Linked DNA regions of Homo sapiens: all the other regions are reported to be linked to region 4. The links are microRNA targets in miRTarBase. Many come from high-throughput screens and were not tested one by one. Region 4 holds a microRNA gene; each other region holds the end of a gene's coding sequence.

Region 1 (3,175 bases), not on the chromosome of region 4:
TTTAATAGCCTGGTTAAAAGAAGCTTCACACCATTCTCTTTGAACATAAAGAAGGATGGTATGGGTAAACCTAAGCTTACAATGAAACCTGTAGATTATAGTTCTGTAATAAGCTGTTTATTACAGACAAGGCCTCTCTACTCTTTTGTAAAACAGTTCTTCACACCTTTGTCATGGGAAGGCACAGATCATAGATCAGATCCACAGTGCCTTTCACATGCTCCTTTCTTATCTCCTTGGCCTTTTCCATTCTGGACCACACCTATCCAGAAATAATTTTCGATTTCTTCCACATCTCTGTACCTCTTATGAGTAAGGGTCAATAATGTGGTAGTTGAAGACATGAAGGTGAGGGTTATGTAAATACTTGAACTGTTCCTCCTTCAAGAGCCTAAAAGAAGGAATTAAAATGGTTTCTTTTCATTTTGTTATAGGAGAAAACGCAGGACAAACACCCATGAACATCAATCCCCAACAGACCCGTTTCCCTGATTTCCTTGACTGTCTTCCAGGAACAAACGTTGACTTAGGAACTTTGGAATCTGAAGACCTGATCCCCCTCTTCAATGATGTAGAGTCTGCTCTGAACAAAAGTGAGCCCTTTCTAACCTGGCTGTAATCACTACCATTGTAACTTGGATGTAGCCATGACCTTACATTTCCTGGGCCTCTTGGAAAAAGTGATGGAGCAGAGCAAGTCTGCAGGTGCACCACTTCCCGCCTCCATGACTCGTGCTCCCTCCTTTTTATGTTGCCAGTTTAATCATTGCCTGGTTTTGATTGAGAGTAACTTAAGTTAAACATAAATAAATATTCTATTTTCATTTTCTGCAAGCCTGCGTTCTTGTGACAGATTATACAGAATTGTGTCTGCAGGATTGATTATGCAGAATACTTTTCTCTTTCTTCTCTGCTGCCCCATGGCTAAGCTTTATGGGTGTTAATTGAAATTTATACACCAATTGATTTTAAACCATAAAAAGCTGACCACAGGCAGTTACTTCTGAGGGCATCTTGGTCCAGGAAATGTGCACAAAATTCGACCTGATTTACAGTTTCAAAAACTGTATTGATGACAGTAGTACCAAATGCTTTAAAAACTATTTAACTTGAGCTTTAAAAATCATTGTATGGATAGTAAAATTCTACTGTATGGAATACAATGTAATTTTGAATCCATGCTGGCTCTGATGGCTCTTATTAGTCTGTATTTATAAAGGCACACAGTCCTATTGTAGCTTATCTTTCGTTATTTTACTGCAGAGCATCTAGACAACTTAGTCCCTCCAGCGGGAAAGTAGCAGCAGCAGCATTAGTCACAGGTCTTACACTACAGATCTTGTGAAAGAGACCAGTTTGGTACTAATTATGAGCATTTTATTCAAACAAAAGTTTTTGAAATATTACAACTGGGGATTTAAAAAATTGCAGCTTAGAATCTGATGGTTTTTTTTTTTCTTGATGTTGTTTGTTTGTTTTTGAGATCGAGTTTTGCTCTTGTTGTCCAGGCTGGAATGCAATGGCACAATCTCGGCTCACTGCAACCTCTGCCTTCTGGGTTCAAGCGATTCTCCTGCCTTAGCCTCCCGAGTAGCTGGGATTACAGGCACCTGCCACCACGTCCGGCTAATTTTTTGTATTTTGAGTAGAGACGGGGTTTCACCATAATGGTCAGGCTGTTCTCAAACTCCTGATCTCAGGTGATCCACCCATCTCGGCCTCCCAAAGTGCTGGGATTACTGGCGTGAGCCACCGCACCCGGCCTTGATGTTTATTTTATAAAGCACTGTAATTTTGTAGCTGATGACAAAAGGCAGCCAAATGTTTTTGATAAATCAGTGGCAACTGTATTTTTGTCTTTTGAAATAACTCTGAAAACATCAGGACAACATAGATTTCAACCTGATAGCACACCACACACAGTGAGCTGTTGCTTTTTAAATTCTGAAGCCTTGTCAGGTTTGCTTCCTAGATTTCAAGTGTTTAAAATAATTCTATCTATGAAACTGAAGGATGAAGCAGATCTCTGACTGACATGTAAAAAAAAATGCCCTTTGAGGGTGTATGGTGGAGATAAATGTTTCTGAATTCAGTAAAATTGATTCCTAAGTATATTATCCTAATCCTGTTTGCTACAGTTGGTATAAAAAGGCATGAAATATGTATTCAATACCTCTTATGTAACCAAAACCATTTTTAATTAGCTTTTAAGGACTGAGAGAGCATCATGTTCAACTGGCATGCAGTCTGCCTGCATTGCCAATGAAGTCCTCAACTGTTTAATATTTTGAACTAATATTATTTATAATCTATGAATTTAATCTTTTTTGAAAGACTTTAATAATTTGAGTCTCTGAGAGGATACTTTCAATTTCCATGGGGGACTTATTTGTTGGGGATCTTAAATAAGATTCCTTTTGATCTACCGGAATATACATGTACAGAGTACATTGGATCATGTTGGAAAGAAGGCAAGTGAAAAGGTCAGAGATGAAGTAGCAAAGTTATGGAATATCGTGGAAAGGATACTAGTTGTGAAATGGAAAGAGACAAGTTATAGTACCCCAAAAGCAAAACAAGCAGGAGATGCAAGAGATGCCCCAAAAGGACAAAGCAACAATTTTCTGTTGCCACCTTTATACCGGAAGACTCTGTTGTAGAAGAAAAGAAGGCTTTGGTGCACCTTATGTGGGAGGAGGAGGGGCAGGGCATGCTGATGCTGAGCGTACAGGCAGACAAGAGCGTAGCCTGCTGTTGCCTCCATCACTATGAAATGACTTATTTTACCTGAAGGACCCATGGTTTATGTTCCTCTAATTCCTTTCACTCTCCCTAAGCCCTCTGAGAGAGATGAAGATAGATGATTTTATTGCTACTAAATTGAAGGGAGCACTATTTCTTTTTGTCTTTTGTTAGCAAAAAATTGCAAAAAGAATTGTACATTCTTGCTAAAAATAAATAAATAAATAAAAAATTAAAAAAACAAGGGACCTAACAAAACTCAGCAGTGTTACTGTATTTTTAAAAAATATTTTTATAGACTCATTTTCAGGTTATTAAATGTAAGAGAAACAGATACCCCTCTTTTTTAAAGTAGGTAAATCATTGATGATTTATATTACCAATTTTTAGAAGTAATTTTCTAGTAAGCTTGTGGCATCAGAAAATACTAGAA
Region 2 (3,000 bases), not on the chromosome of region 4:
GTAGGCTCTACCTCCTGAGCTCAAGCAATCCTCCCACCTCAGACTCCTGAGTAGCTGGGAATACAGGCACGCACCACCATGCCTGGCTGATTTTTTTTTTTTTTTTTTTCTAGAGACAGGGTTTCACCATGTTGGCTAGGCTAGTCTTTAACTCCAAAGTTCAAGCAATCTGTCTACCTGGTCCTCCCAAAGTGCTGGGGTAACAGGCATGAGCCACTGCAACTGGCAGGATGAGCTAATGATTGTTTTGATTTTCTAAATGAAGCATGTGATGAGATCCTCATCTTGGGCAAGCGGGAAGGAGAGGCAGGAAAGGAAGGGAGGAGTGAGAGACAGAATTTGAGTGTGGGGTTATGAACTTACTAGAAAAATACAGTAACACTGCTGGGCTCATCTGATTTGTGGTCATGAATTTATAATCAAGTCTGTCCAATCGTGATTTTTTTCTATTCTACCGGCTCTTCTGATGTAGGAAGAGAAAAGGCAAAGAGATATTTGAATTCAACCAGGAATGTAATTTAGGCAAGTGAGAACAATAGGCAACAGAGCAATGTTGTTCAAAGTTTTACCGGAGAATGATTATTATGGTCCAGAAAGTCAGAGTAAGGATGGACGTGAATACAGAAAGGGTACTGTTTTTCAGATTTTGAAATATCTGCAGTACACTTAACAGCTGAGCATCCCCAATTCAAAAATCTGAAGACTGAAATGCCCTAGTGAGCATTTCCTTTGCGTGTCATGTTTGTGCTCAAAAAGTTTCAGATTTTGGAGCATTTTGGATTTTCAGATAGTCAACTTTTACTTATAATTTATTAAAGAAATAAAGCTAGTTTAAATTTTTTCTGAGGAACCTGTAACTTTCAGAAAATTACTACAATGTACACTGTTGAAACTTAACATATCATTACTTTATTGTGACTCAAGATTATTTTCATCTGTATTAAATTAAGTATTTGCAAAATGCAACATAGGAATACTTAATAACACTGTAATAACTCTATCATCTCCCCATAATTTATGCAAAAATTTTAAGTTTTTCCCCCATCGTCACCTAAGACATTTCTAATCTTTTATAATTAGTTGACTCACTTTCATATAGTACCAATTAATATTAGCCTAATGAAACTAAGTCAAATATGGCCAAAAATAATCATCATGCATTTACAAAACAATATTATTTGCCAGTCAGAGTCAACTTTTATTGAGCACCTCCTATATTCCAGAACCAAAAACATGTTTGTTCCTTACAAAATTCTCAAAGCCACTCTTTAAGGTAAGTAATAGTACGTTCTACTTAACAGATGAAAAAACTAAGAATCAGACTGATACAACTTCCTCAACATCATAGGCAGAAACATAATTATACTGACTGCCAATTTTAAGAAAACATCTATTTGTTACATTTGTGTCATTACTACAAAATCTTTGCTTTTACAGTTTTCTTAAAATCATGTGAATATAAACAGTATTTTTATTTACATTACCATTACTTCTCTTTTCTAAGAGAAATTCTTTGTCTCCCTAAGATCATGACCACTTATGTATAATTTCTTGCTTATAAATTTTAATAAAATATACGTAAGTGGGAATGTACAGTATTAAGTATTACTCTATTATTCTGGAATTTAACAATGAATAAGCACATATTTTAAAGGCCACACCTACTAAGAAACAGATACAAACTGTAATTTCTAAAATATATTTAAAATTAACCTCATTAAAATTTTTGGTTTATAAGTTTAACTGTATAAATACAGAAAGTTTAGCTTAGATGACTATGTATTTGATGGTTAGCCACATATAAGTTACCGAAATACATATTCTTTCAAGTTTGAAGTACCTCTCCTAAGAACTGGGCTAATGGGTGGTTCCTTAGTTTAGTTCAACTGGAATAAAATTATAAAAGTTCTATCTTGGCCAGGCGCGGTGGCTCACGCCTGTAATCCCAGCACTTTGGGAGGCCAAGGTAGGTGGATCACCTGGGGTCAGGAGTTCGAGGCCAGCCCGGCCAACATGGTGAAACCCCGTTTCTACTAAAAATACAAAAATAAGCTGGATGTGGTGGTGTGTGCCTATAATCCCAGCTACTCGGGAAGCTGAGGCAGAAGAATCACTTGAACCCGGGAGGCAGAGGCTGCAGTGAGCCAAGATCAGGCCACTGCACTCCAGCCTGGGTTACAGAGTGAGACTCCATCTCAAAAAAAAAAAAAAAAAAAAAAAAAAAAAAGTTTATCTTCCTTTCTATTACAGATAATATAACTGTAATATGTAACTATAGCCAAAAGGTCAAAGACCACAGAATTCAATAAATACTGAAAATAATACATGGTTAATATCATCAAATTCTAGCCAACTTCTAGTATTACGTATATATTATCTTACAGAAAATGTGTTCTAATAGAATTATCTTAATAAAAAGGGAAGGGACTATAAATAACCAATTACAAATCCAGTAAGTGCTTATTTTACAAATTAGGGACTGAGGCACAATCATAAGTAACTTGCCCAAGTCATATGCCAGTGGTAGAACCAGGACTGATTCCTGAACCTGACTTCTAGTCTGTGCTCTTTGAACACTTCTTTGTTTTCTCATGTTATAACTGAATCCTTCTATGTGCTAAATTTTAATTTGGAAAATTATCAAGTAATAAAACTGCTTTTCTCTCCAGCCCAACTCTCTGGTTTTTCTTAAATAAGTATTACAAGAATAGGATACAGTTCATAACTTTACAACACTCTCATAGGTTCATTAAGATGAGAACTTTATACAGGAAACAGTTCACTTTACATGTAGTTTGGTTTGGCTGGAAAAAGCTTATTTAACAGCCATAGTTTTAAAACCTAGTTATTCTATATCATAGTGACTTCATATGTTGTAAAATGGTTTTCTATAATCTTGACGTTTTCTTCAGATAGCCAGTTTTCCTGCTTTAGCTGCCTTATAAGAGCTTCCAAAGACTTCAATCTACCTAGAGTTTGTTGCTCTTTTAACTCTAGAAG
Region 3 (3,175 bases), not on the chromosome of region 4:
CCCACCCCCTACCTCCTCCATCCCAGTTTCACCCACTCCTAAAAATGATCTCCCCACCCCAATCCCCACTTTTCTCTAGCAGAAGGCCCGAGACATGTATGCAGAGGAGCGGAAGAGGCAGCAGCTGGAGAGGGACCAGGCTACAGTGACAGAGCAGCTGCTGCGAGAGGGGCTCCAAGCCAGTGGGGACGCCCAGCTCCGAAGGACACGCTTGCACAAACTCTCGGCCAGACGGGAAGAGCGAGTCCAAGGCTTCCTGCAGGCCTTGGAACTCAAGCGAGCTGACTGGCTGGCCCGTCTGGGCACTGCATCAGCCTGAATGAGGCTGGCCACCTGCCACTTTGCCCTGCCCTCTGCCTCCAGGGCTCCACTCCCCTTCCTTTTCTTGGTGAAAGGCACCTCCTTTCCTGATAATGAATGGTGTTCCCTTTGCTTGGCTGGGGAGCCCCCCAGGCCAGGTTTGCTGGCCATAGATACCTTTGGGCTGCCTGGGACAGGCTCCTGAGGAGGATTGAGGGTGAAAGTCTCCCACGAGTACACTAAACCTAGGTCTGGTCACCAATAGGGTTTGGAGAGCAAAGGGCCACAACTCATCAGCTGCCTGTCTCTTAGATGCACTTTCTTTTTCCACCAGCACATCCTTCAACACACAGAATTTCAGGGAAGAGTTCTCCCCAAAACCCTAGCTCTTTACCCTTCCATTTTAGCCTTCCACCCAGCTTCCACAAAAGATTTGGCTCTACCTTGGATCTGCTAGTAAATAACTAATAGGCAGGCAGTTATTTGGGTAAGGAAAAAAGGGGTGGGAGAGACAGAAAATTTGCCCATCTGCTGCTCCTCCCCCTTGGCTCTCCACCTGGGATTTGCTATTGAATCTCTACCCTCTCCCACCACACAGTACTGATTGCTCACTGAAAGACTCAGCACCCCCAATGGTGCGCGGAAGCCAGGCGGGCGATTACAATCCAATTACCTATTGTCGACTCAGCCCACACAAGCTTTTCTCCTCCTCTTGCAGGGCATGGGGCCAGGCTCCACTCCCAAATGAGACTGGCCCCCTCCATGGTTCAGGGTAACAGAAGGGCCTGTAGGCCCTGGTGAACTGAATCCAGCACAGGCCTCCCCTGTAACACAACAGGACTGAGCAGAACCAAACACTTCTTCCAACTGACTCTGCTCCCTGCCCTCACCATCTCAAACTCTGATTCCCACTCCACTCTTCGAGGTTTCTCTCAGCTTTTTGACCTGGCTCCCTAAGTAGGCCCTAGATGATTTATTCTTGGCATGGCAAAGCTTGTTCTAGGTCCTCTGCTTGTGAGGGTCAAAGCTGTGTCCTTTCCCTTACCTCCCTCTGCCAGGACTTGCTGCAGAGCTGCTGAGAGGATTAGTGCCTTTGAAGAGCTGTCTGCCTGAGCAACTCTATTTCAGGTGCCCCACACCGGCAAGTACCAGCCAGCAACACCAACCAAATGCTACTCTCTTTAAAGTCCATTTTCCTTCTTCTTTTTTTTTTTTTTTTTGGAGACAGCATCTCACCCTGTCCTGGCTGGTCTCGAACTCCTGACCTCAGGTGATCCGCCGGCCTCACCCTCCCAAAGTGCTGGGATTACAGGCATGAGCCACCATGCCAGACTTCCCATTTTACTTTCTGCAAGCTGTTTCCCTAGCAGCTCCCTCTAGGGGAGAGGTGAAATCTTGCAAGTTGTAGCAAGAGCACACAGGAAACCCCTAACTTTCCTATACCCCACCCGCCTCTTCCCCTTTCTGTCCCGGGATACCTGGCGGCAAGAGACTTCTTGGCTATTGTCCATGCTCCCAGAATCAAGCATAAATGCCAGACACGGCGATTGAGAAGCCAATCAGTGAACCCTTTGGCAAAGCCCCCATCCACACCTGGCACTCCCCTCTACCAATCCCTGGCACAGGGTTCCTGGAGAGCAGGTGCTGTACATTTTACAGCTTTACAATGGGGCTGTTGACAGCCATAATTAGGGAGGCATGAATTATGCGGCTATAATGCAGAGCCCTACAATTAAGGCGGGAATGAGGGGCTGGAGGCAGCAAACGGAATCTGCCCTATGAGCGTGGCTGTTGAGTCCTGTCTCCTGGGTCTGACTTTCCGTAATATGATTGGGGTACAGTAGAGGTGATTAATGGGGCTGGCATCTCTCTTTGGCCTGAGGTTCTGTATTCTGGGAAAGGTACACAGGGTGGAGTAGGGAGAAGCTGCCCCAGGAGGCGATGTAGTGGTGGAAAGAAGAGGCAGAGAGGTCGTCGTCGTCGCCCAGCAGCAAGGGCTGCAAAATAGTAGAACTCGTGGTTGCTTTGGACAGGTGTGATTTGTGCAAGCCAGGTTCAACCCTTGCCTCAAGAAATCAGATGGGACCAATTTAGTGTCCTTCCACCTGTGAGCCAAGCCCCCATTTGAGGACATCTATCGTATTCTTGTGTGCTGGGTCTCAAATAGAATTTTTAAAGATTCTTAGATGTAAAACTTGTTTGCTAACTGCAACGGAAGAACACCTTCTTTTGCTGCTGCAATTGCCTACCCTCCCTCAGGTGCACTTGGCTAGCTCCAAGACCCTGGCTTTGGACTAGGGGGCACCGGAAGAGCCCTTTTGCCATCACACCACCTGTTCCTCTACTTGTTTCCTAATCCCCGGGCGCTTTCCTCCACCCTCCTTTCCTCGCGCAAGTGAAAGGCAGCCAGCTTGACAGTGTGGAAGGAGGGATTTCGCCAGCTGCGGCTGCAGTGCCCAGGCTTGGTGGCCGCGTCGGGTTGGGCAGCTGGGCAAAATGTCTCCGAGAGGGGTAGAGTGTAGGGGGAAGTGAGTGCTGGTAGACCTCGACGGCCGCTCTCCACCATACTGTGGCGGGGTCTGGAGGTTTGGGAATACAGGGACCTTAAGGGAGCCACCCGAGAGGAGTTGGGGGTGGGGGCTTCGATAGCATTTGGGGAGGCGGCTGCGCAACGGGTGCTGAAAGGACAGCTCCTACCTGACCCACGGCACCCAAAAGGCACCTCTGCATGGAAAGTCTCCCCCTGAAACCCCTAGCCCACCTCGAGTGGGACCGTCTTTCAGGTGAGGTGCACGAAAGGCTTCTCCGAAGTGGCAGCTCGGAAGGATGCACGTCCGGCTGCGCCAAGCTGGTTTCCCCGCCTTTTTCCCACTTT
Region 4 (3,000 bases):
ATGAATTCAGGAGTTCAAGACCAGCCTGAGAAACATGGCAAAATCCCGTCTCCACCAAAAATACAAAAAATTAGCTGGTGTGGTGGCGCATGCCTGTATTTCCAGCTACTCGGGAGACAGGTCGGAGGATCGCTTGAAGTCAGGAGGCAGAGGTTGCAGTGAGTGGAGATCACACCACTGCACTCCTGCCTGGGTGACAGAGTAAGACCCTGTCTCAATTAAAAAATATATATATAGGTGTGGTGGCTCATGCCTGTAATCCCAGCACTTTGGGAGACTGAGGTGGGCAGATTGCTTGAGGTCAGAAGTTCGAGACCACCCTGGCCAACATGGTTAAACCCTGTCTCTACTAAAAATACAAAAATTAGCCAGCTGTGGTGGTGCATGCCTGTAGTCCCAGCTATTTGGGAGGCTGAGGCAGGAGAATTGCTTGAACCCGGGAGGCGGAGGTTGCAGTGAGTTGAGATCATACCACTGCACTCCAGCCCGAGCGACAGAGTGAAACTCTGTTTCAACAACAACAACAACAACAAAAAAGTATAAACAGCTAAAAGAGACAGTTTTTGGTAAACCAGCACATTGATCACGCTCTGAATGGCCTTCAATGAACTGATTTAAAGAGCCTGTGAAACCCACCCAAGACTACAAAGCTAGTACGTAAAATGGTTGAAATTCAAACTCATATAGTCTGGGTCTAGAAGCTGAGTGTTTAGCCTCTAGGTGTAGAGGTGTCATCAAAGGAGGGGGAAGTAGGAAAGAAGGAAGGGTCAAAAGATGCAATGGAGAAAGGACACATTTCCAAGGGTCCCATCATAGAGTCTCTTCCTGGCTGCCTCTAGCCTCAGTTCCACAAGGTGGCAGGGCCTGCCTCCTTCTCCCCATCCAAATGCCTCTGGCTACATTCAAAGCCCAGCAGGGAGCAGTCATTGGTTTCCCCATCACACACAGTCTCAGGCTTGCCTACCAGAGGACATAATAAATATCTCCAGGTATGTAATTTTGCCCACAATAAAAACAACCTTTTTCAATATTGTGCAGGCATCTTAGTTTTTTATTGTGAATCTTCTCATTCCAGAATGCGATTTGGGATCTGCCTAGGAAAGTACATTTCCTGAAAGAAGACCAAATTTTCCTACAAAGAAGAGAAAACTCTTGGGAGATTTAAAATAACAATTTGTCCAGCCTGAACTCCCCTTTTCATGTTGGACCTGAGGAATACTGTAAACCAGGGTCAGCAAACTTTTTCTGTAAAGAATTAGATAATACATGTTTTAGGTTTTGTGGGCCCATTCAACCTGTCATGACTACTCAACTCTGCCACATAACTCTGCTATCGTATTGTGACAGAGTAAATATGTATGGGTATGCCCATGGATTCCAATGAAGCTTTATGGACACTGAAATATTAATTTCACAGGATTTTCATGTGTCAGGAAATTTTTGATTTCTTTCAACCACTTAAAAATGTAAAAACTATTCTTAGCTCTCAGGCCATACAAAAAACAACTGGCAGGCTGGGTTTGACTCCTCACAGCTTGCCAACCCCTGGTGGAAATCAACCCACTTAGAGGAAATCTGAAGGGTAGAAACAACTAAAAAATTGAAAATTCCTGTTAATGTTAGCAATGTCAAAAATCCAGGAGACCCCAGCTACTCAGGAGACCAAGGCAGGAAGATTGCTTGAGCCCAGGAGTTCCAGGCCAGCCTGGGCAACATAGAAGACCCCATCTCTAAAAAAAACAAAACAGAAAAAGAAAAATCCAGGAGCTTGTTTTGTTTTGTTTTTGTTTTGAGACAGAGTCTCGCTCTGTTGCCCAGGCTGGAGTGCAGCGGCGTGATCTCGGCTCACTGAAACCTCTGCCTCCCGGGTTCAAGCAATTATCCTGCCTCAGCCTCCTGAGTAGCTGGGATTACGGGCATGCACACCACGCCCGGCTAATTTTTGTATTTTCAGTAGAGACAGGGTTTCACCATGTTGGCCAGGCTGGTCTCCAACTCCTGACCTCAGGTGATCCGCCCACCTCGGCCTCCCAAAGTGCTGGGATTACAGGGGTGAGCCACCGCGCCCTGCCGAGGAGCTTAAGCGATCAGTTAGTCAAAGGGAGAAAAGAGGGTATCAGTAGATGACAGAAAAATTTTTTAGAGAACAAATTTTTAGACATCCGTCAACTTAGAGAAAGTAGAAAACTGTCTATAATAAACTGAAATATTTGGGACTGATCTTGATGTCTGCCAAGGTTTTGGCAGACATCAAGATCAGTCCCAAATATTTCAGTTTATTATAAACAAAGACTAATAAGTCGTCTCTACTATTGGAGGAAAAAAAAAAAAAAGACCGAAATGCAAAAATTCCTGAAAATGAGTAAATAGGGCAAAGATAAAATACTATAAATGTCTCTCTCAGTTCACAAGACCTTATCCTGGGCAGTCAACGTCCAGTTAGAAATAACGTCTGAAAATTCAGTAAGAGAAAAGGAAGTCTTCTTCTGTAATACTCAGTAAATAATGTTTAAAATTAACATAGCAATAATATTATCTGGGAATATGATAGTAAATAGCCCCTCCAAAAAACTGAAAAAGTTGAAAGCAGTTTTCCTGGAGACAGGAAGTGGTGAGGCAGATAAATTATGTTTTTCCTTATTGGTATATAACACTTTAAACTGTGTACATGTGTGACTTTAATAGAAGTGTTTAAAGATTAAATTTAAGAAAATAAAAAGTGTGAGCAAGAACTCCATTTCTATGGCAACCCGCGCGGCAGCCGCCTCTTTGTTCTGGAGCGGCGGCCACGCCCCCTCCAGTGTGAAAGGCTGCGTTTCCGGCCCGTGGGGCTCCAATCAAAATGGGACGCCTGCTGGCGGTAACGACAGGCCGGGGCCCCGCCCCCCGAAGTAGGGCGTGTGGCGTCACTTCCGGCTTCCTTCAGTCCGCTGGTCCCGAGCACGAGCTGTGAGGGGATTCACTTGTGTGCGGAACTCCTCGGAACCATGGTGAGCCTGA

What was found. Region 4 holds the annotated microRNA hsa-miR-3913-5p (UUUGGGACUGAUCUUGAUGUCU, at 2,210-2,231, shown strand). A microRNA usually pairs through its seed, bases 2 to 8, with sites in the 3' UTR of a target mRNA and lowers its output. Matches are read on the target gene's strand: a 7mer-m8 pairs with bases 2 to 8, a 7mer-A1 pairs with bases 2 to 7 and ends in A, and an 8mer does both.
Region 1: miRTarBase lists WWTR1 as a target of hsa-miR-3913-5p. Seed matches in the 3' UTR shown: 7mer-A1 at 1,721-1,727.
Region 2: the mRNA of THAP5 is a reported target of hsa-miR-3913-5p. Seed matches in the 3' UTR shown: 7mer-A1 at 1,953-1,959.
Region 3: the mRNA of DHDDS is a reported target of hsa-miR-3913-5p. Seed matches in the 3' UTR shown: 7mer-A1 at 1,039-1,045 and 7mer-A1 at 1,591-1,597.

The regions. Positions count from the first base shown.
Region 1 is chr3:149,518,249-149,521,423 of GRCh38, reverse strand. WWTR1 (WW domain containing transcription regulator 1) reads left to right here. Exons shown (of 7, transcript NM_015472.6): 7 at 435-3,175. The coding sequence ends at 619. Among named protein-coding and RNA genes, the nearest start is that of TM4SF4, 45 kb to the right of the region's middle.
Region 2 is chr7:108,561,341-108,564,340 of GRCh38, forward strand. It overlaps THAP5 (THAP domain containing 5), which reads right to left. Exons shown (of 3, transcript NM_001130475.3): 3 at 792-3,000. The coding sequence ends at 2,851. Among named protein-coding and RNA genes, the nearest start is that of THAP5, 6.9 kb to the right of the region's middle.
Region 3 is chr1:26,468,813-26,471,987 of GRCh38, forward strand. DHDDS (dehydrodolichyl diphosphate synthase subunit) reads left to right here. Exons shown (of 9, transcript NM_205861.3): 9 at 83-2,494. The coding sequence ends at 319. Among named protein-coding and RNA genes, the nearest start is that of HMGN2, 2.0 kb to the right of the region's middle. RefSeq lists enhancers at 2,235-2,943, 2,944-3,175 and a silencer at 3,023-3,175.
Region 4 is chr12:69,582,535-69,585,534 of GRCh38, forward strand. MIR3913-2 (microRNA 3913-2) reads left to right here and starts at 2,189; the gene lies at 2,189-2,288. It overlaps CCT2 (chaperonin containing TCP1 subunit 2), which reads left to right and starts at 2,925. Exons shown (of 16, transcript NM_006431.3): 1 at 2,925-2,990. The coding sequence starts at 2,988. It overlaps MIR3913-1 (microRNA 3913-1), which reads right to left and starts at 2,289; the gene lies at 2,188-2,289. RefSeq lists an enhancer at 2,956-3,000.